3 separate regions of the Homo sapiens genome follow, and regions 1 and 3 are each linked to region 2. Evidence: fine-mapped expression QTL. A gene starts in region 2. Each other region holds a variant in brackets. All regions are shown on one strand. Distances are between the middles of the regions. Region 1 overlaps LOC124900486 (a long non-coding RNA gene). Region 2 holds the start of KLF8 (KLF transcription factor 8). Region 3 overlaps LOC124900486 (a long non-coding RNA gene).

Evidence for each region.
Region 1: its variant is fine-mapped to the expression of KLF8 in whole blood (TOPMed, PIP above 0.99). The same link has a PIP of 0.9 or more in blood mononuclear cells.
Region 3: its variant is fine-mapped to the expression of KLF8 in whole blood (TOPMed, PIP above 0.99).

Annotation. Positions count from the first base shown.
Region 1 is chrX:56,061,933-56,072,759 of GRCh38, forward strand. All of the region lies in intron 1 of LOC124900486 (a long non-coding RNA gene), which reads left to right. It also overlaps a transcript of KLF8 not described here. Among named protein-coding and RNA genes, the nearest start is that of KLF8, 170 kb to the right of the region's middle. RefSeq lists an enhancer at 4,332-4,591. The variant A/G (reference allele first, on the strand shown) is at 4,235.
Region 2 is chrX:56,228,065-56,238,891 of GRCh38, forward strand. It overlaps KLF8 (KLF transcription factor 8), which reads left to right and starts at 4,292. Exons shown (of 6, transcript NM_007250.5): 1 at 4,292-5,277. The coding sequence starts at 5,271.
Region 3 is chrX:56,112,691-56,123,517 of GRCh38, forward strand. The region is part of intron 1 of LOC124900486 (a long non-coding RNA gene); the gene reads left to right. It also overlaps a transcript of KLF8 not described here. Among named protein-coding and RNA genes, the nearest start is that of KLF8, 110 kb to the right of the region's middle. RefSeq lists an enhancer at 1,554-2,053. The variant G/A (reference allele first, on the strand shown) is at 5,830.

The sequences.
Region 1 (10,827 bases), 170 kb before region 2:
GATGTTTGTTGGTTTAAAGTCTGTTTTATCAGAGACCAGGATTGCAACCCCTGCTTTTTTTTTTTTTTTTTTTCTTTTTGGCTTGGTTAATCTTCTGTCCTTTTATTTTGAGCCTAGGTGTGTCTTTGCATGTGAGATGGGTCTCCTGAATACAGCACAGTGATGGGTCTTGACTCTTTATCCAATTTTCCAGTCTGTGTCTTTTAATTGAGGCATTCAGCCCGTTTACTTTTAAGGTTAATTTTGTTATGTGTGAATTTGATCCTGTCATTATGATGATAGCTGGTTATTTTGCTTGTTAGTTGATGCAGTTTCTTCATAGTGTCAATGGTCTTTACAATTTGGCAGGTTTTTATAGTGGCTGGTACCTTGTTTTTTGTTTGTGTTTTTGTCTTTGTTTTTCCTTGTTTAGTGTTTTCTTCAGGAGCTCTTGTAAGGTAGGCCTGGTGGTGACAAAATCTCTCAACATTTGCTTGTCCATAAAGGATTTTATTTCTCCTTGGCTTATGAAGCTTAGTTTGGCTGGTTATGAAATTCTGGATTGAAAATTCTTTTCTTTAAGAGTGTTAAATATTGGCCTCCACTCTCTTCTGGCTTGTAGGGTTTCTGCAGAGAGATCTGCTGTTAGTCTGATGGCCTTCTTTTTGTGGGTAACCACACCTTTCTCTCTGGCTGCCCTTAACTTTTTTTCCTTCATTTCACCCTTGGTGAATCTGATGATTCTTAAGGCGTAACTTTGTGGTGTTCTCTGTATTTCCTGAATTTGAATGTTGGCCTGTCTTGCTAGGTTGGGGAAGTTCTCCTGGATAATATCCAGGAGAGTGTTTTCCAACTTGGTTCCATTCTTTCAGTCACTTTCAGGTACAGCAATGAAACATAGATTTGGTCTTTTCACACAGTCCCATCTGTCTTGGAGGCTTTGTTTGCTCCTTTTCATTCTTTTTTTTCTAATCTTGTCTTCATGTTTTATTTCATTAAGTTGATCTTCAATCTCTGATATCCTTTCTTTTGCTTGATCGATTTGGCTATTGATACTTGTGTATGCTTCACGAAGTTCTCGTGCTGTGTTTTTCAGCTCCATCAGGTCAGTTATATTCTTCTCTAAACTGGTTATTCTAGTTAGCATTTCCTCTAACCTTGTTTCAAGATTCTTAGCTTTTTTGCATTGAGTTAGAACATGCTCCTTTAGCTCTGAGGAATTTGTTATTACCCACCTTCTGAAGCCTACTTCCTTCAATTCATCAAATTTATTGTCCATCCAGTTTTGTTCCTTTGCTGGTGAGGATTTTGGATCCTTTGTAGGAGAAGAGGCCTTTTGGTTTTTGGAATTTTCAGCCTTTTTGCACTGGTTTTTCCTCATCTTTGTGAATTTATCTGCCTTTGGTCTTTAGTGTTCGTGACCTTCAGATGAAGTTTCTGTGTGGTTGTTTTTTCTGTGGATGTTGATGCTATTCCTTTCTGTTGTTAGTTTTCCTTCTAACAGGCCCCTCTGCTGCAAGTCTGCTGGAGTTTGCTGGAGGTCCACTCTAGACCCTGTTTTCCTGGGTATTACCAGCAGAGGCTGCAGAACACAAAGATTGCTGCCTATTCCTTCCTCTGGAAGCTTTGTCCCAGAGGGGCACCCACCAGAAGGCAGCCAGAGCTCTCCTGTATGAGATGTCCCTGCTGGGAGGTGTGTCCCAGTCAGGAGACATGGGCGTCAGGGACCCACTTGAGGAGGCAGTCTGTCTCTTAGTGGAGGTCAAGTGCTGTGCTGGGAGATCCCCTGCTCTCTTCAGAGCTGGCAGGCAGGAATGTTTAAGTCCACTGAATCTGTGTTCACAGCCACCCCTTCTCCCAGGTGCTCTGTCTCAGGCAGATGGGAGTTTTATCTGTAAGTCCCTGACTGGGGCTGCTGTCTTTCAGAGATGCCCTGCCCAGAGCAGAGGAATCTAGAGAGACAGTATGGCTATGGCAGCTTCACCGAGCTGCAGTAGGCTCCCTATGTGTTCTAATAATGGTGGATACTATCCTTTCACTTCCAGGTTTATGACCTTCTATATATGTACATATATATCAATATATATATACACACACACATATATATAGAATGTGCATGTGTATATAATACATGTATGTGTATATATATGTATATACATATATACATGTGTGTGTATATATACATATATACATATATACGTATGTGTGTGTATATATATGTATATACATATATATGTGTGTGTGTGTATATATATATATATGCAGGATGCAGTCTTGTGTGGGTCTTCAAAATGGTGCCTTGTAGCTGCCTAGGACTCAGGAGGTATTATATTCTCCTGCTGAATTTATTATTTTATTATTGTGTAATACTTTTTGTCTTTTTGCCTTTTTTTTCTTTAAAGTCTGTTATTTAAGTACAGCTACTCCTGCTTGCTTTTGGTTTTCATTTCCATGGAACATTTTATTTCATCCCATTACTTTTACTAGATACGCATTTACATGTGAAGTGAGTTTCTTGTGAGCAGCATATAATTGGGTCATTTAAAAATTCATTCTGCCAGTCAATATCTTTTAAGTGGAGAATTTAACCTGCTTACATTCAAGCTTATTATTGATATGTCAGGACTTGCTTGTGTCATTTTATTAGTTGATTCCTCGTTGTTTTATATATTCTTTGTTTCTTTATTTTTCTCTATTTATCACTGGGGTTTGGTGATTTTCTGTAGTGGTACCATTTCAGTGCTTTCTTTTTATTATTTTTTGTGTTTCCTCTACCAGTGAGTTTTATATGTTTATGCGTTTTCATAATGGTGGCTATTGTCCTTTCACTTCCAGGTGTACGACTTTCTTAAGCATTTCTGGTAGGGGCATTCTAGTGGTGATAAACCCTCTCAGCTTTTGCCTTTCTGGGAAGGACTATTTCTCATCCATTTACGAAAAGTTCCTTTACTGGGTATAGCGTTGTTGGCTGGCAGTTTTTTTTCTTTCACCACTTGGAATATATTATCCAATTCTCTCCTGGCATGTAAGGTTTGCTGAGAATTTTGCTGTTAGTCTCATGAAAGTTCCTTTATATGCGCCTTTATGTGCATTTTTGGGGGTTTTTAGAATTCTCTCTTTGACTTTTTACAGTTTGACTGTAATGTGACTTGGGGAAGAAATTTTAGTTGTGTATATTTTGGAATTTCTGCTTATTATGTATTAGATATCTAAACATTTTGCTAGGCTTAGGAAGTTTACAGCTATTATTTTGTTAAATAGCTGTTCTATTTATTTTGTTTCCCCTTCACCTTCTGGGACATCACAATTTTGAATATTTAGTCACTTTATGGTGTCCCATATGTCCTGTTGACTTTCCTTATTCTTTTTAATTTTTTCCTGTTTTTTTCTGACTGGGTTATTTGAAAAGATCTGTCTTCAAGTTCTGAAATTCTGTTTGATTTAGCCTAGTTTTGAAACTTACAAATATATTTTTATTTCATTCAATGAATTAATTAGTTCCAGATTTTTTTATGATATCTATTTTTTGTAAATTTCTCATTAATATCTTAAATTGTTATTTAAAAATAATATCTGTTTTCTTGTATCTTTTTGAGATTTTTAATACCATTTTCAATTCTTTTTTAAGATTTCATAATTTTTTTTCATTGGATCTGTTGCTGGAAAGTTGTTGCATTCCTTTGGAGATGTTGTCTTTTCTTTGTTATATTTCTTGTGTCCTTATGTTGATATCTGTGTATCTAATGTACAAATAGCTTCTTTCAATTTTTTGAATTTATTTTCACAAAGATGGGTTTTTTTTAAAGATGGATTTATGTTGTTGGTTGGGTAGGGAACTTTGGGTTTGATTCTGGGTGTTTGCAGTAATATAGTCCTTGTATGAGTTATTTGACTGTAAACAGCAGTTATTGCTATGATTTCTTCAGTGGTTTATAGTGCAGTTGCTAATAGAGGCTGTTGTGATGTTTGTGTGTGGATGTGAATGCCAAGTATGCCTGTCTTCAGGCTTCCAATGTGGCAGCAGTGGATTTAGTGTGCCTAGTTTTGGGCCCCAATGACAGCAGGTCTAGGTAGGCTGATTTGTTGGACCCCAAACAGCTTGCTCAGGTACAGGCAGTTTCACCATTTGCCCAAGTGGGTGAGTGAGTCTTTGGGGCCTTGGGTAAAGGGTGTAGCATGAGTGATGGCAGTAATAAGGGCAGAACAACACTCTGGCTCCCAGGTGGTTTCCTCTAGTGTTGGTGGTTTCTGTGAT[A/G]TGCTGTGCACAAAAGTACTCAAGCTTGCAGTTTGTGTGGGTGGGTGCCAGCTGCAGTCGTGGCATGTTGGGTGTTCTTCAGTCTCCTAGGAGGAGTGCTCAGATGTCAAAGGTGATGAATGGGGCAGGGTGATTCCCAGGCCCCCAGATGTTGGCCTCAGGCTCTGCAGGGGCATAGTTGGGCCAGATGGGCCTGCTCTCAGGCCCCTCAGTGGTTCATGTGAGCACCGACTATGGTAGACAGGGGCCTGGATATGTGCAGTATGTGCAGGTTGGTGCAGCAGTAGTTTTGTTGCTTCCCTGATGCTCAGGAGGGTGAGGTTGCTTGCATTGGCAGCAGCACTAGGCATGCAGCTGGGGAGCATATACTTCAGCACCAGGTGATTTTTGCAAGCAGGGTAGCTTGTCTTCATTGCACTTGTACATGTGTGTTGGTCCTGCTACTGGGGGTAGCAGGCTCACTGTTAATGGTTCCTGCTTTAATCCTGTTGGCACTAGCCAGCAGTGGTACCTGGATGTGGGTGGAGGATATCAATTAGGCTCCAAGGATGTGAATATACAAAAACTGTTGAGACCTAAGGCAGGATGCAGTCTGATGGGGACTAGACCTTCCAAATGGTGCCTTGTAACTGCCTAGGACTCAGGAGGTGTTTGGGACACAGAGTGAGCTTCTTCTGTGGAGCAGTGTCACAATGTGTTCTCCAGGCCACTCCCTACATTAGTCTCCAGGCCTACAAGGGCCAAGGGGCTTTACAATGGTTAGGATTGCAGAAGATCATGCTGGGAATTTGGACTGCTGGCAGCCTTTCACTTTCCATTAACTGAAGATCCTTTCCAGGCTCCAAGCCAATTCTGACCAAGCAGACTACCTTGCTTCTCTCTCCTCCCTTGCCTTAAATGTTTTCTGTCTTTTTTCTGTTAAATTTCAGCATTCTGTCTTAGGTGATCTCTTCAAGATGATACTGTCTACTCACTAATTTGGTTTTGTGTGGTAGAAGCTTTAAGGTGGCTGACTAGAGGCATCCAGTACTCACGTCTTCCATTCGTCTTTGTGGAGTACGTGAGTACCAGATGCCTCTAGTCAGCCATCTTAAAGCTTCTTCCCAAAAAAATTTTGAAATCCCCTTGAACTCTTGTAGCCAATAGGTCAGGCCTATTTTTTTACATATCAGATTTTTGTTATTTTTCATTTGAATAGTGTCTAGGAACTCAGAATGGTTTTGGAAGCTTTTAATCTGAGTAATTGGGTCATTTTTACCTGCATGAGAGGCAGTGCCTAGATGGTAGACTAGAGGCAGCTCATGTGTGCTGTTCTCAAAGAAAGGAAACAAAAGGGCTAGTGAGCACTAACTCTGCAGGTTGATCTTCTGAGAAACCAGGTCAGGATCCATCAATGCAGCAGGGGAACACAGAGAGCAGAGGATCAAAGCTGGTCAACAGCCAGCCTGGACTCAGCAGAGAGCCAGGAGAACCTCTCTAATATGAGAAAGAGTGAGTGAGAGCACCTAGGGAGATTCACACTCCAACAGGGACCTGTGCAAGACTAGGAATGGGAGAATCCCCCTTCCCCCGTCCCCCTCCTACACTTCTAAGACTGAGGCAGAAAACTGTTCAGACTTTTTCACAGGCAACTCTCGAGTCCAAGGGGACTTCTACAAGCCTTGGGCCCTAGAAAACACCAGCACTTGCACCATAGCTCCAATAGAGGCCAAAGTGGCAGTATCTGGGAGCAGTAAGATTGCTTTACTTCCCCTTGCTGGAAGAGGCTCAGCACCAGCTTCTAGCCTAGCGGTCCTACTTTGGCTTGAATTCGGCCAGCTATTTCACCCACCTTGCCAATGGTAGCCAAAGTGGAAATGCCTGATATAGCCTTCAGCCTCATGGTCTCCCTTTTGTGTGAACTCAGCTTTAGGGTGAAGCCTCCTGATGTTCTAGGAGACATTCTGACAGCAGGGCACATGACCCCATCCAGCCACACCACTGATAGCCAGAATGTCAATGCTTGCTAGAGCTTCTGGCCTAGTGGTCTTGCTTTTTTGTGAACTCAGCTGGATGGTGCCACTTCCTGTTGTCCTGGAAAATACCCGGATGGCAGAGTGTGTGACCCCACCTGCCCTGCCACTGGAAGCCAGGTGGGCAACACCTGTTAGAGCTTCTGGCCCGACAGCCCACTTCTGTTTGAGCACAGTTAGAGGGTGCAGCTTCCTGTTTTACCAAGCAACACCTGGATGGCAGAGCACATGACCCCACCCGACTCTGCCACTGGAAACCAGGTGAGCAACACTTCCTAGAGCTTCCTGCTCAGTGGCCCTGATTCTGTGTGAACTCAGCTGGAGCACACAGCTTCCTGTTGTTTTGGTGAACAACCAAATTTTGGAGTGTATGATTCCACCCACTCGCACCACTGGCAACCAGGCAAGCAATGCCTGCTATAACTTTTGCCCCAACAGCTTCGTTTCTGTGTAAACTCAGCTAGAGGTCACAGCTTCCTGTTGTCCCAGGAAACACCTGGATTGCAGAATGTGTGACCCCACCCACCCCTGCCAATGGTAGCCAGGCAAGCAATGCATGCTAGAGCTTCCAGCACAGCAGCCCCGCTTCTGCGTGAACTCAGCTGGAGGACACAGCTTCATGTTGTCCCATGAAACATCCAAATGGCAGAGTACATGACCCTGCCTGCCCCCACCACTGATAGCCATGCAGGTAATGCTTGCTAGAGCTTATAGGCCAGCAGCCCTGCTTCTTTCTAAAGTCAGGTGGAAGTCCCAGCTTTGTTATCCTGGGAAACACCTGGTCAGCCATGCACATGACACTCCACCCACCCTGACCACTATTAATGAAGCAGGTAACACCTATTAGAGTTTCTAGCCCAGCAGCCTCACTTCTGTCTGAACTATGCTGGCATGCACAGCCTCCTGTTGTCCCAGGAACCACTCAGATGGCAGGAGAGGTGACCCCACCCACCCATGCCACTGACAGCCAAGTGGGCAATGCCTATTAGAACTTCTGGCTCAGCTGTCCTGCATCTGTGGGAACTCAGCTGGAGTGTGCAGCCACCTGTTGTCCTGAGAAACACCTGGATGGCAGGGTGCATGACCCCACTGATCTAATCCCTGCCACTGAGAGCCAGGAATGCAATGCCCACTAGAGCTTCTGACCCAGTGGCCCTGCTATTGTGTGAGCTCGGTTAGAGGGTGCAGCTTCCTGTTGTCCTGAGAAACACCCACCCTGCTGTCCCCCACTACTAGTAGCCAGGTGGGATATGTGTATTAGAGCTTCTGGCCCAGTAAGCCCGCTTCTGTGGAAACTCAGCCGATGGGCACAGCCTCCTTTTGTCCCAGGAGGTACCCAGACAGTAGGGATGGCATCCCCACCCACCCCCACTGCTGGTAGCCAGGTGAGTCATGCCTGATCGAGCTTCTGGCCCAGCAGTTCTACTTCTGCCTGAATTTGCTAAGGGGTGCAGCCCCCTATTGCCCTGGAAACACCCAGATGCCAGAGCAGTCAACTCCACCCACCCCCATCTCCTGTAGCCAGATGTGCCACATCCCCTAGAGCTTCCAGCCCAGCAGTCATGCCCGGCTTCCTGCCCAGCAGTCTTGCCCGGCTTCCTGCCCAGCGGTCTTGCCCAGCTTCCTGCCCAGCGGTCCTGCCCAGCAGTCCTGCTTCAGTGTGACGATTCCTCAAGGATCTAGAACCAGAAATACCATTTGACTGAGCAATCCCATTGCTGGGTATATACCCAAAGGATTATCAATCATTCTCCTATAAAGACACATGCACACATATGTTTATTGCAGCACTATTCACAATAGCAAAGACTTGGAGCCAACCCAAATGCCCATCAAAGATAGACTGGATAAAGAAAATGTGGCACATATACACCATGGAATACTATGCAGCCATAAAAAAGAATAAGTTCATGTTGTTTGCAGGGACATGGATGAAGCTGGAAGCCATCATTCTCAGCAAACTAACACAGGAACAGAAAACCAAACACAGCATGTTCTCACTCATTAGTGGGAGTTGAAAAAGAACACATGGACACAGGGAGGCAAACATTACACACTGGGGCCTGTCGGGGTGTTAGAGGGAAGGGAAGGGAGAGCATTTGGACAAATACCTAATGCATGTGGGGCTTAAAACCTAGATGATGGGTTGATAGGTGTAGCAAACCACCATGGCACATGTGTACCTATGTAACAAACCTGCACGTTCTGCACAGGTGTCCCAAATCTTAAAGTAAATTTTCTTAAAAAAAGAAAAAGAGAGAGAGAGAGTGTGGTACATATAAACCATGAAATACTATTCAGCCATCAAAAGGAAAGAGATCATATCCTTTGCAGGGCCATGGATGAAGCTGGAAGCCATCATCCTCAGCAAACTAACACAGGAACAGGAACCCAAACACTACATGTTCTCACTCATAGGTAGGAGTTGAACAATGAGAACACATGGACCCAGGGAGGGGAATAACACACACCATGGCCTGTTGAGTGGGGGCAAGGGGAAGAAACTTTGAGGACAGGTCAATAGGTGCAGCAAACCACCATTGCTCATGTTTACCTATGTAACAAACCAGCACGTTCTGCACATGTATCTTGGAACTATAAGTAAAATAATAAAAAAAGAACATGTGGTGGTTTTTAAATATCTGAATGTATCTAACTAAATACATTGGCTAAGTAAATATAAGGTAGTCACATGTAAGCCTGATGCTCATGTAAGAAACAGTATCCTATTATGGCACAGACTGTATTGGGAATATATGCATCATTTACTCTAATAGGAGACAGCTAATTTTATGTTCCTCTAGTATACAAACATCCTGTGAAGAGTGAAATAGTTTTTCAAAGCAGGCTGAAGTGCCACTGAAGAGAACAGACTGAGTATAATAGATAACCTAGATATTAGTGTCTTTCATATTGGCCATGGGATTGGCCAATAGCTCATAGGATTGTAATAACCTCAGCAGAAGCATTTTGATGTCATAAAGTCAAGGTCTAATTTTTCAAGACTGAATTTGAGATATGAAGGAAACTTAATTACCAGAAGGTAATTAAAGGTAATCTACCATTTGAAGTATTAAAAGACAAAAAAACTATTAAATTTTTATCAGCGTAATGAGGTAGAAGATTCAGCAATCAGCTAAGTTCAGAGTAGTTGCTATGGAGTGGGAAAAATGAGCTCTTTTATTTTCTTTAAGTGGCATAAGAAGATCACAGGGGTTCAAAATAATAGAAGGAATATAAAATAAATTATATTAGTGTTCTAGGAGGTATCAAAATGTAATTATAGACAAAACTATCAGTAAAGCAAAGAGACAAAAAAGGATGTTGAAGAATGAGAAAATTAATTTTGTTCATTGTCTTCGATAGAAGCTTTTCACTTCTGAAGTCAGCAGCTTGTGCAGGATTTTTAATAATCCTCAGTTTAAATTATTTTAGTGGAATAAAGTCTAGTAGTCATTTAAGTGAAGAAACATGAATCCCAGGATCAACACTAGAGTTTTACTGATATGTAAATGAATAAAACAGTACCTAATTTGGTCACTTCAATTGAAGCCCAACAACAGTTTTTCTTTGATGCCTTTTTCAGAAGACCAAATCTCCAGGATTGTGAATCAATCAGAGAATGTTTAGGTAAGAGTTTTGAAAATGTTCCTTGTGTTTGTTGTAAATAAAGCTGGAGATATCATTTGAGTAGTATGTATTATTCTGTCATTAGCCTGTAATAGACTAGAATACAGGATTGGAAGTGAAATTTCTCATGACACTGCATGAGACAGCCTGTTAATAACTCATAAGGAGATAACTTGTGGGTCCTTAAGAGGTATGAAGTTACTTTTAGCAGATAAGAATGACTTTTTGTGCCTTGGAAGTTTGAGGGTTACTACAGTTTTGGACAGTTACATTATTACAATTTCACTAATTCTCTTTATTCTTCCTGAAGTTTCTGGGTGAAAAGGACAGTCGAGATTTTGAGTTAAATGTAAGCTGCAAAGAGCTCTTTAATGTTAAATAACAGTACCAGAGAAATGTACCTCCTTGCTAGTGGAGTGATAAGTATGAATTTTCCAATTTGGAAATACAAATAATCAAGAACTTTTGATTAAATTTAAAAATCATTACATTTTTAGTTTAGCAGCAAGAAAAAGCCTCAACCAGCTCCAAGAATAAACAACAATAACTATAATGTACTTATTTTCCATTTGGAAGTATTCAAATGGTACCTGAGGATCTGTTACCAGTCAATAGTCTATATTTGCAGTCTTACTAGTATTGTGTTATTGGCAGGTAGATTAGCTCTTCAAATCATCCTTGGCAGTATCTCTTAAAATTCCCCCGCTAATATTAGTTTAATGTTGTGGCCATTATATCTCTACTATCTTGGGCGATATATTTACGCTTTTATCTTTTGTCAGCTGATAAATCCATGTGAAAGCAACTAATACAGACTTCTAAATTGACTTTATTACCACAAGAAGCTTAATTTTTGTAAAACATTCATTCTGTAAAAAATTTATTCTGGTGAAATATATATAACAAAATTTTGGCATTTTAACCATTTTAAATGTACAATTCAGTAGCATT
Region 2 (10,827 bases):
TAAACCAAATTTAATCATGCCTCTGAATGTCTCAAGCAAGCAGTTTAGTTGCTGATTTTTATAAACTGGTTTATTTATACATACAGTGGCAAGGGTTATGGGGAACACAGGAGCATGTTCTCAATATCTATGACCAGAAAGAGACTCAACCTAAAGCTGGTAGTTTTCACAGTTGCCATTGCTATGAATATTAGTTAACCTTTATTGAGAGCTTTCTTTGTGCCAGACACTGTGCTTTGTAGGCTATAATCTCATTGGCGGCCAATCTAGGTTTTGTGGGGCTGGAAGCTTATACCACTTTGGGGACCATCTTTAAGAAAAACACAATGTTTGATCCCTTCTGGAGTCTTGGAAAGGGGCGTAAAGCTTAAGCTTCATTAATTTTACTGTAAAGCCACCTCTGCATCTTATTTAATCTTTTTGACAATTCTGTGAAGTAATATCTTTAAAAGAAATAGGTGAGGAAATGTTTAGAGATGTGAAGGCACTTGCCCAGGGTTGCACAGTTTGCAATCTAAATCATTGTTTTATCCCCGCAATCTCCTTCCAGGCTTTCTTCTCTCAGCTAACTAGATTTCCTTCTCCAAAATATCTTTATCCTTTGCTGGCAGTAACCTTAGTGCTGTCCTCTGGGACATGTGAGGAACTTAACACTGGTTCAACATTAGCGGAGGGGCAAAAGGTCTCCTTCTAGCTGAGCTCGCAGAAGGAATATGCTCTCTGGGGAACTGTGGAATAAGAAGAAAAGTGGGTGAGGAGGACAATTTTGTTCCCACTAGGTCTGAACTATGCCCTGGTTTTAGCTACATTTTTGTTGTTCCACAAACAACAGTGATTTAATGAATGCAGATTTTTCTGTTTGTATATTGCTTGACTTCCCTTTCATTCCCCAGCCCAGCTTTACCCAGCTGAGGTCCTAACTCCCCTCCCATCTACCCACCCTTCCTCACTTTGCCCTATTCTGCCCCACCTTCCTGTCAGGCCCAGCTTCTCAAGCCTTCTTTTTTTTATTGTTGTTGTTCTACTGGGAGCAGAGAGGGTGGAGTCCTCTTACTGAGGCTTTTCCTCCTCCCTTCCCTCCAGCCCTCAGACTGGGCTCCACCCTGGTAGTTTGTCAGCTGGCTTTCAGGAGGAGGAGAAGCGGGATGATGAAGAGGAGAAAGAGAAGAAGGGAAGAACAGCATATGTGGGCCCAGAATCGTGTCTGCATATTTCTCAGCTGCTTTTCATTAGGTTCCACACTTAATTTAACACTCCTCATCTGATTACTTGGATATATAGAGGAAAGCACAGGCTGCTTCTTCAAGCAGTCTCCCTCACGCATAAGGTGGGATGGAAGGAGTTGAAAATATCGCAGGTTGCTATTTGGTTCATGTTTATTCTAGCCAGCTAAAGAAAGGAGAGCCTGAGGTGTTTCCTAGACGGACAGGGAAATTTATCAAAACTTCTAGTTCCCCATACCTGCTCCCTCACACCCTTTCGTGTGACATAGACAACACCAACCACATGCTGATTATTTCTATGTGTCAAGAGTAAAAGAATATAAAGGCAAACTCCTGCCTTTGACATTAACTGTGGTCATGGGTTTCATAGTTCCCTGTGAACCATCTTTGGGTCCTAATTTGAGTGAGACAGAGGCCATCTCTAAAGGACTTGAAGGGGAAATGTGGACTAATAGGCTGTGTGCGTACAGTGAAATTGAGGGTTCATCCACTGGAGCCTCTTAGAATGGATGTTCTCATTCCACCGCCCCCCAACACCTAGCATTGTTCTTGATAAAGCACAGGTGCTCAATACATTTTATTGACTGAATAGATGAAAGAACAGATGGGAAAGGATCTTGGGTTTGTTTTTCCAAGTTTCAATAACTTCAAGTTTTCCAAAAACTGAATTTGCCATCTAAGGTCTAAGTTTTCCCCACAAATAAAGTTGAGGCAGTATTTCTAAAACAAACAAAAAGCTAGAGCTTAAAATAAATTTGTCAACAATAAAGACTTTTAATAAAATATAAACTGTTAAGCTATCTGTGTATGGATCGACCTTCTTGAAAAGCTATTTCAGACTGAAAAAGTAACTCGATGACCTTAAGGCACACCCACTGTATTCAGGGCTAGTAGTGGCTACTCTTTTCAAAATGTTACTTCAGCAATCTACTCATTTTCATCTGCACATCACAAAAATGCATTTATTATTGATATAAACTGCTTAATGTCTTTCACACACTTGAATCTAAGAGAAAACTTTTCAGCATTGCTCAAAACAGTGCTGTAGTGGTAAGAATCCTATATTGGATAATACTCCCCAAATTTTATACATTGAGAAACAAAGCCTCCAAGGAATAAAGTAAATTTTTTAAATGAAGGCATAGAGAGTTGTACACTTCTCTGTATGATTCCATCTCAATATATCTTACCTTGTAAGCTTGGCAGGGGTGCAGGTCGTGGTGAAGAGATATAGTGAGATAGAGAGTTATTTATGAAACCCCTACTACAGGGACATTCTTTTATGAAACAAATACATATGCATGTGTATTTATTTAACCTGTCACTAAGTTTCCACATCTGTAAAATGGGGATAGCAATGTCTACCCATAGGATTGTCAGAAGGATTCAATGAGTTAATATACATAAGAGGCTTACAACAGAGTTTAGTACATAGTTAATGCTCAATAACTATTATTATTGTTAATAATAATATAACTTGGCATCCAAGTTACAGAAATGAGATCGCCTGGTGCTTCAGCTCAAGGACTTTATAGTTTAGTAGGGGGAGGCAATTATACCAACAAATATGTGCCCCGAGGTAGAGAAGGGCACAGAGGAAGCAATGGTCAGTTTTGCCTGAAGAAATTAAGTAAGGAGGGGAGATGACCTTGAGTTAGTCCTTTCAAGAAAGTGGACAGATTCATTGGAAGGACATGCAAGAAAAAAAAAGGTGGACAGAGAGCTTAGTCTATTTCAGTCAGAGAAAGTAAAGCAACCCAAGGCATAGAGATTGGAAACAGCTTGGAATTCCCAGGGATTTGTAATCCAGGTAAAGCCCAGGAGAACAGCAAAATCTCTGCTGCTTGAGAGGCAGACAAAGGCCAGATCACAGCAGGTTAAAGGATGAGTTCCAGGGTGCTGCCTTGGATGTATGGTGGTGCCATTCAGGTAGTTGGTGAACTACAGGAGGAAGAACAGAGTGTTTTGGGGAAAGGAAGGTAGATGAGATGCACAGAAGACATTCAGGCAGAAATATCAACTAAGTAAGTAGACCTATGTGTTCGAAAGTACTGGGCTGAGGCCTTCCGTTTCCTTATTTTTTTAAATAAAGGGCACAGAGAATATAACAGTACCTAGTTCCCAGGGTTGTTATTGGGACTAAATGGGGAAATGTTGAATGTAAAAGCACCTGGCTCAGGGACTTGCCCATATTAGGTGCTGAATACATGGCAGATATTATTATTTCTCCTGTCTCTTTGCTCTTCCTCCCTCTGCTTTGTTTCTTGTCTCTCTTCTTTTTCCTCCTCTTTAAAAGAATTGTGGTAGGGAAGAGGCACTGAAAATGGGCTGTGGTTGCTTGTGACTTCCTGGCCTCCCATTAAAATGAGCTAGAGAGAGACTTTCAGGCAAGCGTAAAGAAATCCTGGAAACATGGCTCCTATCCTGTGGATTCAGCTTTACGGGGATCTTCGCCAATGCCTGGCTGAGAGGCGGTCTCAGGGGGTTGAGAACTCTATTCTTAGAGGTCTGGTATCTGGGAGACTGAGAAAGCCTTTCTTAAGTCTCCCTGCTGGGCCACGCTGTATTCACAGATCATCTTCAACTCCTTCTTCTTCCCCACCTACTCCTTCGCCCTCACCTCCTTGGCTTATCTCTTGCTAGAAAATGCACCAAGCTCCAATCTCCGTTCCTTTTAGCTTCCTCCCTGAGAAGACACTGTGACCTCGCTGTCCTTGTTCGTGTTACCATGGAGAGGTAGGAGGATAAATATCGCTTCCAGTTGTCAGCTTTTTTGTTTTCTCCTTTCCCTCTTAGACAGCCCCCAGCCCCAATCCCAGTACCCGTTTCACCACCCTCCCCTGGAGAATTAGCATAACCGGAGTAAATAGGTAATCAAGCAGTGTGCTTGCAAGCCTTAATTTTGGGACAGATAAGGAAGTGAAATTGATTGGAATTATACCTGCCGCTGCTGGAGGCTGAGGGAGGCGGCCGCCGGAGGCGAGGCCAGCTCTGTCGGCCCAGGGCCCCGCCCCACCCCCTCCTTCCTCCCTCCTCCTTCTCAGCCCCACCCTTCTCCACCTCCTCCCACTTTGCACTCTCCTCTAGCGGCCGCCTGTCCTTTTTAAGGAACTCCACCCTAGGTGGAGTCCTCACGATAGTCACACCTCTCCTTTGGGCCTAGCAGGGCCAGAGAAAGACGGAATCACTCTACCCACTCAGGTTGCCCAGAGAGCACTTTAGGTTCTGACTCGCGTGGGGCGCGAGGTACCCCGTGGGGCAGCTAGGTGCCTCCAAGAAACCCCGCCCCAGAGGACCCGCACGAGTTGCTGCCATTTTTCGCTGAAGCCCCTGCCCTGGGGCTGGTGTTCTTCTCTATGATTCTACCAATCGTCGGCATTTTTTTCCTCCCTTCTTTCTTTTTAGGAAGGCGCTGGGGTGTGCGGCGGCAACGGCGGCGGTGAAGGGATCCTCTTGTGGTATCTCCTCGTGGGTTCCTGTCTTGAAGGATTTCTTCTCCGCCTCAACTTTATGTTCAAGTAGCGCTTTGGGGGTTGGGTTGGTTTTCATAGCCCCCACCCCCGGCCCTCTCCTTTTAAAGGGTGTGTGGAGTTCAGAGGATGGGTGGAGAGCGGGCTTGGCCGGAACTGAATTGGTAGAGGTAAAAGGGGAACGGAGGACCTTAAGCTCTGGCCACTTCGGCCCAGCGAACCCACTTTATTTTTGTCCAAGGAAAAGCTGCAGGGGGGAGGATTCTTTTTAGGAAGTCTACTCTGCCGGCCCCTGATTTTTGGGTTGGATGCTTGAGAGCTTTGTTTCCCTTGTTCCGAGAGTGGCCCAGCTGGGTCTGAATCGACTCCCTCCCCTTTCGACCCCCTCCTCATTTTCCAGCCCGGAGAAATAGGGGAGTGGGGGCCCAAGAACGAGAAGACGAGAACGCGTCGCCCTGCGCTATGTCAGAATGGGGCGGGTGTGAGGGGAACAGCTCTCTTGCGATCAGCTCAGGAGTATGAGCCTCCCGGAGGACGGCATGAGTTCTGGACACTTCAGGAGTCCTCAGCTAGTGACATGGTCGGTAAGTGACTCTGGGACTAATACCCACCCACTCCCACCTCTTTCGTCTAGATTCTATCCCCCTCCCAGTCCCCCTGCTCCCCCCACACACCCCACTTGGGGTTTCAGCAGTGGGGGCGGGAGCGGAAGGTTAAGAACACTATGTGGAATCAAATGAAACTCAAGGGAAAATGACTTTGCTAAAGGGCTGGGCAAAGAAAGGCCAAGAAGGAGAGGAGAGAGCTTGGTGGAAGAAGTGAAAGGGGGCAAGAATGGATGGATTTGTCTAGTCTAGTCTCCCCTGGCTCGGCACTCCCAATACTCCTTAAGCGGTAAGGATTGTCTTTGACTTAACCCCACACAGCCAAAGTCACAACCAGAGAGAACAGGATTCACAAGGCCAAAGCTCCCAGGTAACCCCCTGAAGCCATAGCGGGTACCTAGAGAAGCTTCTGAAAAGAAGGAGGAGGGGACAGTGGTTTAAGGTGCAAAGTTAGGCTATTGGAGGCACAGAGTGAGGCCTGGAAGCAGCTGCGGGGGAGGAGCTGCTTTGGGCGTGCCAGCTCTTTAAGGAGGGGCTGAGCTTGGTTGGAGAAGGAAGCCAGAGCCTAGGCTCTGCTCCGGCCCTTTAAGACGTGGCCAAGGCAGTTGGTTCGTCTGTGTAGGTGGAAGACTGACTGGGCCGAGTTGCTGTGATTGCTGAAGTGAATCCATTTGTTTAGCCACTTGGCGGAGCTGTCTTTTTGTGGGCTTTTTTTTTTAACCCTAAGAATTTGGGAAAAAATAAATCACATCCAAACAGGTGGCCAAAGGCACCATGTCTTATTTCTTTTGGTATTATATTCATCGTGAAGAAACGCATTTATTAAGCACCTGTCACCCAGTGTGGTAATAATTGAGCAAAAAGAATAATCTTTAAATTTGGATTTGAAACTGATGGAGATTGCCATGGTTTGGGGTAATCTGCTTTGAAACCCTAGTATCACCACTTATTAGCTGCATCACCCTGGGCCTTGCTTTTCTCTTCCATAGAATGCAGATTAATAATTCTATCTCAGTAGATACTCGGGTGGATGAAATATCTTGTGTATGTGGCAGAGGCTGCCACTTGTATCTTAGTTCAACTTCCCTTTTCTACTCAGTTTGGAACTATTTTTCTGGACCACTGCTGATAAAATTAGTGTTTTTCTGTCCTTAAAACACCTTCCAGATGTGGTAAAACGAAACTTAGGAAGACTGAATTAGTTTGTCCAAAGGCTGAGGCTAGAACACAGGTTTTATTTGCTTCTGATTTAACATTGTTTCCACCAGACTTCATCACTTCTGAAAGAAAGGGCTACTAGCCTGCCTTTTCTCTCATTCTTTGGGCAACTTAACCAGAATGATATAACCAACAGGACTTTTGGACAACAGAAACAAGTGATAGGTAAATGACCTCATCCCATTCTTCAGAGTTATGGGGAAGCCCTTGAGAGTTGTTGACCTTTGGTGACTGCTGGGGACACAGAGAATGGGTGGGGAGCAATGTCTTCAGGTAAGCCTGGAGGGCAGACAGGCAGAAAACATAGGAAGAGTAGAAATAATAACCTCAAAAGTAAAAATGACAGGTGCATCTATGTAGTCCACCCTCAAGACCAACTTACTTAATGGCTGTACCTTCAGAGCCCTCAGGAGCTATACATCCCTCTTGTTTAGACTTTTCAGGGCACATTGGAAATTGGGAAAAAAATAACCATGTAGCAGACTACCATCACCACTCTCATTGTTCTAATACATGCATTTCTGAGGTGGGGTTCTCATTGGCTAAGTGAATTCCAATAACCAAAGTAGCAAACAGAGCCTAGTCATTTTTGATCTTGCCAGATTGTCTGTGCCTGGTGCGGTGGGGGCAGTATATGATCTTCTAAGATCTAGCTTTACAATGCCATGATTTTGTGAATGAAGGAAAACTTAATTAGGATGATTGACATAGATGATCATCTAGTATGATTACCATCTTATTGTTAAGTAGAGTATGAATAAGGGAATAACATTGTAGTATTGGGCTCATTTGTTTATTCAAAGACAGTGTGAGATCATGTTTGGTATTCTTCCTGATTTTTTTTTTTTTTTTTGACACGGTGTTTCGCCCTTGTTGCCCAGGCTGGAGTGCAATGGCGTGATCTCGGCTTGCCGCAACCTTCGCCTCCCAGGTTCAAGTGATTCTCCTGCCTCAGCCTCCTGAGTAGCTGGGATTACAGGCATGCACCACCATACCTGGCTAATTTTGTATTTTTAGTGGAGACGGGGTTTCTCCATGTTGGTCAGGCTGGTCTCGAACTCCCAACCTCAGGTGATCCATCCACCTCAGCCTCCCAAAGTGCTGGGATTACAGGCATGAGCCACGTGCCCAACCTCTTCCTGATTTTTATATGCTAATGTTTACTATCCTCAACTGAGTTTCATCATTTAGCCTGTTTCCTCATCTCTAAAATGACATGATAATTTGTGATTATAAATAATGTAAGGAAAGCATTGAACTCAGTGCCTGATATCTAATATGTTTCATAAGTTGCGGTCTCATCATTTTTGTTATTTAAAAAAATTTGTTTTATTTAAATGCTGCTGTGTGTTTGCAGAAGTGGAATGTAGATTAGTGGACAGGAAGCTGGATTTAAATATATGAAAGGTGCTAGATGTTCTGTATAATATACTAAAAGATGTTATTTGTGTATTTAGACAAAATAGATGTGATGTGGGCAAACTAAGCTCTAGGATTATTAAGGAGCAATAACCTAACTCAAGAGCCCAATCCAGATATTTCAAATCACTAGCAATTTGACATTTTGTTGTAACCTCACACTCACCATTTCTAATATACAGCCCATCATCACCTCTGGACTCTTCACTCATTCCTCATTCAAGACTCTTCCTTTCACTTCCCTGGTTCTGCAACTTACTATGACCATAGTAATGGTGAACTTATTTAAACTCTGTACTTTAGTTGTCATATCTGTGCATTGGGGATAATAATAGACACTACCTCATAAGGTTGCTGTGAGGAATAAGTGTGTTAATTTTGTAAACACTTAGAAGGCGGCATGAAAGTGAAGCAGTGGGAAAATGTAGCTGTTGTGGTACTCATGTCCCTTTCCCCTCTTCCTCATTTTCTCATTTAATTAGATGCCAATGGCTGTTGTATTTTTTCCCCTTTGTATCTGGTATCTGTTTCTTTATTATTATTCTAACTGCCACCACCTTAATTTAGGCGAGACGTGCAAACAATTAGCCTACAGACCAACTAAAGCTCACACGTGTTTTGTTTTCCCTAAAATTTAAAAACTTTCAACTAAAACATGCATTTTCAATTGGTAATGCATTCCGCCTGGCTCAAAATTCAGTATTTACTAAAGGGTGCATGGTGAAAAAAGTCTCCCTCCTATTCCTGTTCTCTAGCCACCCATTTTGCCTCGCTGGAGGCAACTAATGTTATCTATTTATTAGGAATCTCTCCAGGGATATTTAGTGTATATCAAGCAATGAGTATGTTTGTGTGTGTGTGTGTGTGTGTGTGTGTGTGTGAATAACATTGTAGTATTGGGCTCATTTGTTTACTCAAAGATAATGTGAAATCATGTTTGGTTTTCTATAGATAGATAGATGGATATATATATATATATATATATGGTTCAGTATCTTCTGATTATTCAAAAGAAACTGGAATTCTAGGAATTTAAGTGAAATCTGATTTTGAAATACTGGTTATCAATCAACTTTTAAAAGTGTGGGACTAGGCAACTTGACATACTGACATGAACTGAATTGTGACCCCCCCATCCCCCCCAAAAAAATTCATACATTGAAGACCTAATACCTAAGCTTGTGACTGTATTTGGAGATAGGGCCTTTAGGAAAGAAATTAAGGTTAGATGAGCTCATATTATATATAATACATATATAATATTAGTATATATGTAAGTACCACAACAACTATATTTTCTCACTGCTTACTTCACTTTCATGCCTTCTTCTAAGTGTTTACAAAATTAACACACTTATTCTTCACTGCAACCTTATGAGGTAGTTTCTATTATATATATATGTGTGTGTGTGTGTGTGTTTGTGTGTGTGTGTGTATATATATATCCCCTTCACCTTTTATACACAGATAGTAACACATTCTGCATATTGTTCTCTACAACTTGCTTGTCTACTTAAAAATATACTTTGGAGATATTTTCATATATGCACATTTTTTAAATGCCTCATTCTTTTTTATGACTGCATAGGTTTTTACTATATGCATGAGCCACAAATTTTTAAACAGTTTTCTGTTGATTGATCTTTAAGTTATTTCCAAACTTTTGCAGTGTTATTTGTAATAACAATAAAAACTTTTGTAAGCAGTGCATTAGAGAGCTCAGGCTGCCATAACAAAATACCATTGACTGAGTGGCTTAAACAACAGAAATGTATTTTCTCACAGTTCTGGAGGCTGGGAGTCCATGATCAGGGTGCCAACATGGTCAGATTTTCATGAGGACTCTCTTTCTGACCTGTAGAAGGCCACCTTTTCACTTTGTACTCATGTGATCTTTGTACAAATGGGAGGAGAAAGAGTGAATTCTCTCTGGTGTGTCTTCTTAGAAAGACACTAATCCTATCAGATCAGAACCTCACCTTTATGAGCTCATTTAACCTTAATTTCTTTCCTAAAGGCCCTATCTTCAAATATAGTCACTAGGTTAGGTCTTCTACCTATTAATTTTTTTTTGGAGAGTGGACACAACACAAGTCAGTTCATAGCAGTGTGTCAAATTGCCTAGTCCCACACTTTTAAAAGTTGGTTGATTGCCAATATTTCAAAATCAGATTTCCCTTAAAATTCTAGAATTCTAGGCCGGGCGCAGTGGCTCATGCCTGTAATCCCAGGACTTTGGGAGGCCAAAGCAGGAGGATCACCTGTCAGCAGTTCGAAACCAGCTTGACCAACATGGTAAAACCCCATCTATATTAAAAATACAAAATTAGCCGGGTGTGGTGGTGCATGCCTGTAATCCCAGCTACTCAGGAACCTGAGACAGGAGAATCGATTGGACCTGGGAGGCGGAGGTTGCAGTGAGCCGAGATCACACCATTGCACTCCAGCTTGGGCAACAAGAGTGAAACTCCGTCTCAAAAGAAAACAAAAATTCTTCAATTCCAGTTTCTTTTGACTAATCAGAAGATACTGAACCAGCATTCTCTCTTGGCAATAATTGCCTAGAGTTGATGAGCCTCTCCCTCCCTCCCCTTTAAAACAGTACTTGTATTTTTTGTTCACCACATTACTCATCTGGCCTAGGTGGCCTTAACCTGTCTGACCCCTAGTCTAGATATTGAGATTATGGCACCTATGTAAGCTCTTACCGCAGTACTCATAGAATATTCCAATAGCTTCTAGTTCTACTTTGATTCTTTCTGCCCTCTCTACTCTGAGGACCACTGCAAGGATATATTCCTTAAAACACTTTTAAAAATTATGTTACTCTCCTTCACTCCACAGTCATTTACTGGGTGTCTACAAAGTTGGAAGCATCATGCTAGAAGCTGA
Region 3 (10,827 bases), 120 kb before region 2:
TCCTATATTCAAGTTCACTAGTTCTTTCTTCTGCCAGTTCAAATATGCTTTGTATCCCCTCTAGTGAAATTTTCATTCAACTATTATACTTTTCAGTGTCAAAATTTTTATTTTAGTTCTTTTTGTAATGTGTTTTTATTGGTATTATGTTCAGAAATCCTTTTCCTGGTTTTCTGTAGCTTTTAATTTTTTTAAGGTTTTCTTTTTAACCTCTGTGAGCCTGTTTAAGCCAGTTGATGCAGCTGGACATGGTGGCTCATGCCTGTAATCCTAGCACTTTGGGAGGCCAAGGAGTGGGGATCACTTGAGGTCAGGAGTTCAAGACCAACCTGGCCAACATGGTGAAACCCCGTCTCTACTAAAAATACAAAAATTAGCTGGGCATGGTGGTACATGGCTGTAGTCCCAGCTACTCGAGGATGGCTTGAACCTTGGAGTCAGAGGTTGCAGTGAGCAGAGATTATGCCACTGCACTCCAGCCTGGGCGACAGAGCAAGACTCCATCTCAGAAAAAAAAAAAAAAAAGACAGTCTTTGTCTAGGAAGTTGAATGTCTAGACTTCTTTGTGGATAATTTTTGTTTATTTTTTCCTGTAAATAGGCCATACTTTCATGGTTTTTTTTTTTGTATGCCTTGTTTTTTGTTGAAAACTGGACATTTTAAATGTTATGTGGTAACTCTGAAAATAAGAGTTTTCTCCCCTCCCTAGGTTTGCTGTTGGTGCTTGTTATGAGCTGTGGGCTTTCATTTGTATAGTGACTTTTCCAAACTAATTTTTGCAAAATATAGAATTATTATTTTGTGTTGTTACTGAAGTCTCCATTTTACTATTTCAGTGGTCAGACAGTGACCTGGCAGGGATAGTTTTTTTTTTTTTTTTTTTTTTGTGATGTCTAGACAAAAAAATTAAAAAGGAGAAAAAAGAAAAAAAGAAATGAAAAAACACACAACACAAACACGCACACACACTGCTAGTCAAGTCTTTACAGATCGGTTTTGAATTTGAGAACTCCTTCAATGCTAATATGAATGTATATTCTGTTGTTTTTGGGTAGAGTGTGTGGAGTGTTCTGTAGATATATGTCAGGTCCCCTTCATCCAGAGCTGTATGAGGTGTCTGGTGACCTCTGTTGGGAGGTCTCACCCAGTCACGATGCAGGAGATCAAGGGCTTATTTAAGGAAGCAGTCTGGCCCCTTGGCTAAGCAGGTGAGCTGTGCTGGGGGGAATCCCACTCTTCTGGATTGTCCGGATTCCTCAGAGCTAGCAGGGGGACTGACTAAGTCCTCTGAATGGGAGACTGCGGCTGGCCCTACCCCCAGGGGCTCTGTCCCAGGGGGATCATAGTTCTGTCTGTAAATCCCTGGCTGGAGTTGCTAAAATTCCCGCAAGGAGGCCCCGCCCGGTTAGGAGGGATGGATCCGGGTCCCACCTATAGAAGCAGTCTGTCCATGATTGGTCACAGCTGCTGTGCTACACTGTGGGGAGTTCCTACTGATCCAAACCGCCCAGTCTCCTTGGCACCCACAGGGGATAAAGGCCTACTGGAGCCCCAGTGATGGCAGCCAACCCTTCCCCCCAGGAAGTCGGTCATCTTAGGCCATCTCCAGCGTGCTGCCCCTGGGCGCAATGTTAGCGGCCGCCAAGTGTCTGCACAGTTCTGTGCTTGGGACCCAAGGACCTCCTCTAGTTTTAGATATCGCTCTGCTGCGAACTTACTGGAATATCTTGCGCAAGTGCTTGTTTTTCTTTCTAAACTTCAGTGTTCTCATTTGTCAGATAAAGAGAGTTTGCAATTATATGACCTCTTGCAACTTTGATTTGTGGAATTCTATTATCCAGCAGGCAAAACAGTAGACATTGGGTGTGACTACCTGTGCCAAGAGGTGTGAAAAGTGGAATGACCGTCCTCATATTGCATATGGACATAGACATAGTTTTTTATATTGAATGCCTGGGCTAAATCAAATAACTTCCTTGTTCTTTAGTTTGCCTATCTGATATGAGAGCAGAATCAAGGACTAAGAAATATTTTAGTTAGTTGTTTTAGAAATCACATATTTCCCCAAGTTGCCTCAGGCAAAAGTGAAGGATATGTGGAGTGGTAGGAAAAAGCATTACAATTTTATACAGATCAAAGGTAGCATAATATAAAGAGTAACATAAAGAGTACTTAAATTGGCATCAGAAGCGTTGGCTTCCGTTTTACTTTTTACTCACTACGCTGACTTATATTGTGTGTGGTCTTTTCTCCACACTTCAGTTTGTCTCATCTATAAAATGAAAAAATTATACAACTCTTTGTTTCTTGTCAAATTTTAAAAAGTTTGAATAGTTATGGATTTCCTTGAATGTATACTACATATGGGAGGAATTTTCTATTTGTGGTAAGATTATGTTTTTCTCTTAAAATTATTTATTTATTTATTTATTTATTTTTTTGGCCAGGCACGCTGGCATGTGCCTGTAATGCTAGCTACTCTAGAGGCTGAGGCAGGAGGATTGTTTGAGCTCAGGAGTTTGAAACTAGTCTGGGCAACATAGTAAAACCCCATCACACACAAGAAATCATTTTTTAGGTAAGTCCATTTAAAAAATATATTAAGTAAAAAATAGTCAAAGTCATGAAGGGGAAGGTTAGATAGTCTCTGAATTCTTTTTCTGAGACTCAAGTCCTGATTTATCTCATTCTCAAAATGGAAGCCAACACATCTGGAAAGGAGCATCTGCTGAGGATTTTTGTTATTGAGTCTAGGTTTGGCAGTTGACAGCTAAAATTTCTTTAACATACTGGAAAACATGATCAAAGGAATCTTTATTCCCTATGCATTTTGGAGTGATGTTGTTCCCAGTTAATTAGTGATAGAAGTGGACCTTACCATTCACAGGTGTAGAACAAGCAAGCTGGGAGTGCCCTCAGGCCATGAGGGCAGGCATTATGTAGTAAAATATCTTTCAGTGCACCAGATATACCTTTAGTAAACTGATGTGGTACCCGGCTAAGCAGGATCGAAAGCTGATATTCCCATAATAATAATATCATTTAGCAAGTACTTACCTTGTGTCAAGCAAGTTTGTAAGAACTTTATATGGAATATCTCATTGAATATTCATGACAACTCTATAAAGTAAATACTGTTATTACCACTTTTTTCAGATGAGAAACCTGATACACAGAGCAAGTAAGTACCATACCTAAGGTCACAGAGCTAATAAAGAGAAGAGTTAGGCTTCAAGCATCTATCTTTTCTGTTCCATGTGAAAGCTATTCCATTACTGAATTCTCCCACTAAAGTTACCAGGTTCACTTTGTTAAATATGAATTCATCTAACTGATGGTCAGCTTTTGTATAGAACAGCATTTCTTCCCTGATTTGACTTTTTATTCTGTGCTTTCTTAGCTCTTTGCCTTGGGGCCCAGACTGCTTCTGCTCTAAAATTAAAGTTGTTACTACATGGCGTGAAACTGCTTTGGCAGTCTGAGGTCCAGCATCTGGCCAAAGAGATCCTGGCTGCAAGCCTGAATGCTCATATGGAGCTGTACCTGGCAGGAACAGGTGTGATGAGGAGGATCCAGCCCGGGATTCTGAGAGAAAGGCTGGATCTGTTGCAATATAGTATTTATGAGAGAGAAGGTAGCCTGATGGGATCCAATGAGAAGAATTGATGAAAGAGCTAGTGAAAAATAACTACCCTCATCTCCATTCAGTTGAGAGCTAATTCTGAAGTCTTTTCACCCTGGTGGCCTTTTCTGCCAGAAATCAGTGTTATAGCCAGAGGCCCAGAATTTGCAAGTTCCTGAAAAGGGCCTGGAAAGCTGGAGGAGGAATGGTCATGAGAGAAGATGGGCATCAGCTGGATGTGGGATTTTTTCCCCCAGCTTTATTGAGGTATACTTCAGAAATAAAATATTGTCTATATCATGGTATACAGTATGATGTTCTGATATATATATATATATATATATATATATATATAGTGAAATGATTCCCACAATCAAGATAATTAACATATCTATCACCTTACAGTTACCGTATTTTCTTTTTTTGTGTGTAGTGAGAACATTTAAGATCTACCCTCTTAGCAGATTTCATGTATACAATGCAATATCATTAACTATAGTCACCATGCTGTACCTTAGCTCACTAGGCATTTGAAATGTTCTGCCTTTAAAATACCTTAACAGTTCATAAACATTGTAACATGTTAGAACTCTTATCTATACTTTCTTTGGTGCAATATCATGCTTTAATAAATTCCTAACATGAGTTCTTGAGTGAACTTTCTAATAAGTTAGAACTCTTGGCCAGGCATGATGGCTCATGTCTGTAATCCCAGCTGTTTGGGAGACTGAGATGGGAGGATTACTTGATGCCAGAAGTTTGAGACCAGTCTGGCCAACACAGCAAGACCCCTATCTCTATTAATTTTAAAAAAGAAGGGAAAAAAAGTAGAACTCTCCAAGCCATGAAATACCTTGTGAGAACCAGAGACTTTGATATAACAGTCCTAACACATTTCAGTACAAGTAACTATCCTCCCATTTCAACTTCCCCCTTATATACATTTGAACTTGCTCATGAACATTAGCATGCTCCTTTTTGAAATCAAATCTATTCAACAAACATTCCCTGAGCATCTGCTCTATTGCAAGGCTTGTGCTGAGTGCTGAGCAGGAGATGCAAGTGCCTTAGACAAAATTGAGGTTTTGTATTCACTGAATTTTTGCATTCTGTGACAAAAGCATGATCCTGTCCTCATAGAATATATAGTCTACCCTGGCTGCTCTATTGTGCTCTATCATCTCTGGGGGAAAAAAAAACAGAAAGAACCTCAGTTTGCCATTGATTTCAGCTTATTCCTCAATCAGAACTGTTCATTAGGAACAGTGAAACAATTATTCTACATTCTTATTAAATATGCCACTTTCAGATACTCATATGTAAAATGTTAAATTGTTCTGAAGCAAGACAACTGCAGGACCAACACATTGGATCATGTTTTTGATTAACTGTCTTTTAGTGTTTCTTCAAATTCATTTATCTTTAACTGTTTAATCTAATCCTTGTGTCAGTGTGGGGCAGCAGTGAAGTCAGACTGCCTAAATTTAAGTGCTAACCTCTGCACCTCTGTTTTAGTCCATTGAGCTGCTAGGACAAAGTACCATAGATTGGGTGGCTTATAAACAACAGAAATTTATTTCTCATGGTTCTGGAGGCTGGGAAGTCTAAAATCAGGGTGCCAGAATATTGGGTTTCTGGTGAGGGCCCACTTCCTGGTCCTGGTATGGCAGAAGGGGCAAGCAACCTCTCTAAGGCCTCTTTTATAAGGGTGCTAATTCCATTCCGTGAGGGCAGAGCCCTCATGAAATAATCACCTCCCAAATTTTCTACCTCCTAATGCCATCAGCTTGGGACTTAGGATTTCAACATAAGAATGAGGGCAGGAAGGGGGGACAAAAATCAGACTATAGCAATTCCTAATTGTATGACCTTAGACAGTTAACATTTCTCATACTCAGTTTACCTACCCCACAGGGCTGTTGTGAGTTGCAGAGGAGCTAATGTGTGTGTATATATATAAAGCACTTAATACAATATCTGGCACCTATTGCTCAATATAAGTCAGCTATTACTGTTAATATGCGCTATGAGAATGGAGTTGGTGAATTCCATTAGGCCATAAACAACTCAGAAAGTCAGATAAACCTTAAATGGTCTGAAATAGAAGTTATAAATACTTATCATTACTATTTGTATTATTCTTAAGTACATTTTATGTATCGATTTCTAAGGCCCTCACAGTCTTATTTTCACTTGTTTACTACAAT[G/A]TTTGTATGAGATAGGTAGAGTGGAGATTCTGACCTGAGTTAACTGAGGCCTAAAGAGACTAGATGATTTGTTTAGGGTCACACTTGAAAGCCTAAGTCTCCTAACTCTTAATTTCAAATCCTTCCACTAGATTTTAGATTTGCACTAAAATCTCTTAGTTTTTAGTGCAAATGTTATTGTAATTTAATCATCAATAAACTATAATGGAAAAACTTCTTCTGGGTGATAAAATTTTGCCAATAATAATGTTCTTCCTTCTGGTTACATAACGCAAGCTTTTTCTGAAGCAGTATACAGCTCTGCTGGTCTGAAGTTTCTAATTTAGATTGTTTTTGATTGTATTTATATATTCATTTGTTGTATATATGTATATTTCAGTCACAAACTTTATATAGTTCACATAGGCTCATAGTTGGGAGGAGGAAGGGCAGGATGTAGGAAGTCTCAAATAGGAGGAAATTCCTGGAGAAGGTGTAGATAGAGAGAATGTTGTATGTAACTCTGTTTTGCAGGACCCAGGATAGCTTTTCTTAAATCTGTGAGGGATTATCTTATCTGAGCCATGGAATCAAAAGTATTTGTCATAGTTTGAAGAGAGGAGGCCTGTATGTGAAAGACAGAAGGAAGAGAAGTTAAAGAGACTGATCTACTTCCCACAGAGCCTTCTTTCCTCCTACTGGGGTCCGCTTTGACAGAAGAGAGCTTTTATTTCCTTTGCTAAAGTGGGAAAAGGAGGAAGAGGGTCATGGTGGGAGAATGAAAAGGTTGCCTCTGTCTTTGCTGCCTGATCCCCAAAGAGCCTAATGGGAGAGCTGAGGAGGCATCCCAGGGGAGGCCAGCTGAAGCAAGCTGGCTGTGACAGAGCAATCATCACACCAGGTTCCGCTTATTATTATTTTTTGAGACAGAGTCTCCTTCTGTCACCCAGGCTGGAGTGCAGTGGCGTGATCTTGGCTCATTGCAACCTCTGCCTTCTGGGTTCAAGCGATTCTCCCGTCTCAGCCTCCCAAGTAGCTGGGACTAGAGGCGCATGCCACCATGCCTGGCTACTTTTTGTTTTTAGTAGAGACGAGGTTTCACCATATTGGCCAGGCTGGTCTCGAACTCCTGACCTCATGATCCACCCGCCTTTGCCTCCCAAAGTGCTAGGATTACAGGTGTGAGCCACCGCGCCTGGCCTATTTTTAGTGATTTTAAAAAAACTTTAGGTTTTGGGGTTGTTTTGTTGTTGTTTTAACGTAGTCTAGTTTCTGTAGGCTGACTAGTTTCTCAGTTACAGAAGGGGCTGACTTCTCCAGTGTGCCTGCAAGCAGAAGAATGGGTTGTGCAAGTTTAGGTCTGGATCTGCATAAGGTAGGAGCCATAAGGTAGTACCCAAGTATTCTTTGGGTACTAGAAAATTTGGAAGTCCACGTAGTTGATGGTTACTCCATTTCGGCCCTTTTACACTAGCGGAGGGTGTTTAGAAAGGCTATATATATATATATTATCCTTAGTTTTTAGTTTAAAAGTATCTTTGGAAACTTTACTTTTAACTAATCTGGAATCTACAATGTAAGTCCCACAGTATGCTTGCAGTGCAAATAGAGCTCCAAAACTAGTCTTTTAGTCTCCTACTTTTTTTCCAACCCAACTTACCTAAGCTCTTCCGATGTGGGAATTCTGGATGCCACCACTGCCTTGTCTCCTTTTTCTTATGCCACCCAATCCGAACCCTGATGCTAACAGTGCCCAGCTTTAGGTAGAATGTCCAGGGACTTCAAGCTACAGCCCTCTTGAAGGCTTAGGATTTCATTTTTCAGCTTTGGTAATACAGGAAATTTTCCCTGAGTTTTTTCGACTTTTAAACAAACACTATTTCCCACTATTCAGCTGACCTTTGTGCAGTGGCTAAGCTCTCCCTTAAGGAAGAGACCATTCCAGGCAGCTGGCCAGGTGTCCAACTATTTGTCTGTGCTCTTGGTTCCTGCATGAAGGGCTCAAAAGAGAGATGAAAGAGAAAAATGTCCCCAGCCTGAATGGCTTTACCCCATTTCCTCCATTTATACCAGCTCTCCAGAAATTCCCATGGTCTCTTAGGCCTTGGGATGAGTGTTATTGCTAGCTCCAGAAACATGCTTTTGGTCATCCCTTCCTGCTGCCACTCACTCACCCACCACCTAGGGCCTTTCCCTCTTCTTTTGTATGAAGGTGAGAGAAAAAGAGAATATGCCCCACCTCCTCCCCTTTGAGGCTCAAGGAAGCATAAATTCTGGGTTTTAGAGGGCATGTTTCCAAGTGAGGGTGAGAGTTTGACCTTTTTCATTCTTTCTCAAGTAATCCTGCTAGCTTCTGAGCAGGGTGACTGTAGCATGCCCTGGACCTAAAGAAAACACTAAATTCCGGGCCGAACACAGTGGCTCACGCCTGTAATCCCAGCACTTTTGGAGGCCAAGGTGGGCAGATCACGAGGTCAGGAGATTGAGACCATCCTGGCTAACACAGTGAAACCCCGTCTCTACTGAAAATACAAAAAATTAGCCGGACGTGGTGGCGGGCACCTGTAGTCCCTGCTATTCGGGAGGCTGAGGCAGGAGAATGGCGTGAACCCGGGAGGCGGAGCTTGCAGTGAGCCGAGATCCCGCCACTGCACTCCAGCCTGGGCCACAGAGCGAGACTCCGTCTCAAAAAAAAAAAAAAAAAAAGGAAAACACTAAATTCAGACACCACACACATAAGGCTTCCTGCCTATGACTGTGAAAGGGATAATCAAGAAAGGAAAAGATAAAGGGCAAAGGAAGGAGAAAGGATGGAGAGAAGGGCTGGAAAGGAAGAGGTTGGAGAAAGAATAGCCTGCAGTTAGAGAAAAGGGAGAAAAGTGAAGAAAGGGGAGAGGAAAGAGAACGTTTCTGAGTGGGCAGGACTGACTTGTCTATTGGCATTATTTATTGCTTTTGGACTTATATCCTGACTCCTTTAGTTTTCACGTGGCTGTAATTTTATCAGACTGCCCTGAAAGCTCAGTTCTTCTGACCCGGAAATTCTTTTCCCAAAGACAGAGAAGAATTGTGATTTATCTTTTCATGTTTCTGCCTTCTTCAGCTTTTCTTTAGCATCCCAGTAGGATGATTCTTGGAGAAAAGCCACATGGCCCATGTTGGCTGAACTTTAGATTCAAATAAAGGCTACTTGCCACAGCCAGGGCCTGATGGTTTTCATTATTGCCACAGTACCTATGTAAGTTTGATGTGACTTATCATATACTTCAGAAAGTAGTTGATAGTCCTTAGTAACTATGGTCATAAATAGAAAGGTCCTTATTTGAAGGAAACACTCCTACTTAATCCCAGGAAAAATCATTTCCAACTGTGTGTGTGTCTTTATTGTGCAAACCCTTGCACTTAGTAGATACTCAATAAACATTTATGGAATCAGTATCTACATCTGCAAAAATTGGGTGATAGTTTTTTCTCTGAACATGTTTTGAGTAAAATTTCATAATTTTTGTTATCATTAAGGTTGTCATTGCTTGATTATTCTCTACTCCTTATTAACTGAAATGATAATAAAGCCATAAAGGTTTATGAAACACTCACTAGGACATTAATAAAATTTGTTTTGTGCCCTGCCTTGTGGTATGGGCTGTGGGAGGGGTGAAAAAGAATACTCAATGACAGTTAATGGTCTATTTGAGGAGGTAAGACTGACATATATGAAAAAAACAAAATGTGAACAAATTATACTTGGAAGTCAACATGCCAAAGTGAAAAAGTTTGGGAATGTGCCAAATCTGGATTCCAATCATGGCCCCACTACTTATCAGCTGAGTATCTTTGGATGAGTGATTTAACCTTTTTCAGCATCTGTTTATTCCTCTGTCAAAATGATGCTACCATAAAAATGGGAAATAAATGACATACAATATGCAAAATATATGATACTTGGTATGCATTCAATTATACTGATGATAGTATTAATAATACTGTTCTGATACTTTTGTACAAACCTACTTTAAGGAGAGATGAAGGAGTTTTTTCTGCTCTATGATAGTGGAACATTTCTAATGACTTCATGTGTTATTTTTTAATTAAAATATTAAGTACTTTTAAATAAGGGGGAGAAAAATTGAGGTTTATTATTGAAATTTTTCATTTGAGCTTCCTGCTTTAAGCCCTATTCACATGATAAATTTCTGTGTACCTATGCTTTCTTTTTCTTGTAATGTTACTCCCTGGAGTTGAACTTGCTTTATATATATATTTCATTTTTAATAGAAACGGGGTTTCACTATATTGCCTAGGCTGGTCTTGAACTCCTGGGCTCAAGTGATCCTCCTGCCGAGGCCTCCCAAATTGCTGGGACTACAGCTGTGAGCCACCATGCCCAGCCTTAACTTGGTTTTAAGACCTCTGATTTGCCTTGCCTCAATTACCTCCTTTCTTATTTTCTTTCCTTTGTTGACTCTCATACTCTGTTCTCCTAATTCTCCCCCTTTTCCACTCCCTGCCCACCCTGAAAGACACACACACACACAATAAGTGGGTGGAGTAAGAAGTCAACGGAGTTGGATATAAGCATTCCTGCTTTTCTGACATCTCCAGTGTCTTGGAGAACAAGGATTCTAGAATGAGGGCTCCTCATTATGCTTCCTTTCAACATTTTTTCTCTGTGTTACTTAAGCTTTCACCCCAAGCATGTTTGACAGAGAGCCAGTGCATTCCCCTTACTTTTTACAAAAATAAAAAAAGAAAGAAAAAGAAAGAAAGAAAGAAAAAGAAAGAAAGAAAGAAAGAAAGAAAGAGAAAGAAAGAAAGAAAAGAAAGAAAGAAAGTTACCGATCTTAGTAGACCAAAAAGCTAAACTTATGAAAGTCTCAATTCTGGGCACAAGCCTGAGATAACCTCTAAACTCTTTAAGGTTGTAATTTATCTAGACATTGGATGAAATAAGAGGACTTGGGCAGAGGGCACTAATAGAAGCATAAGAGAAAGTTTGGTTAAAGGAAGGGATTGATAAAA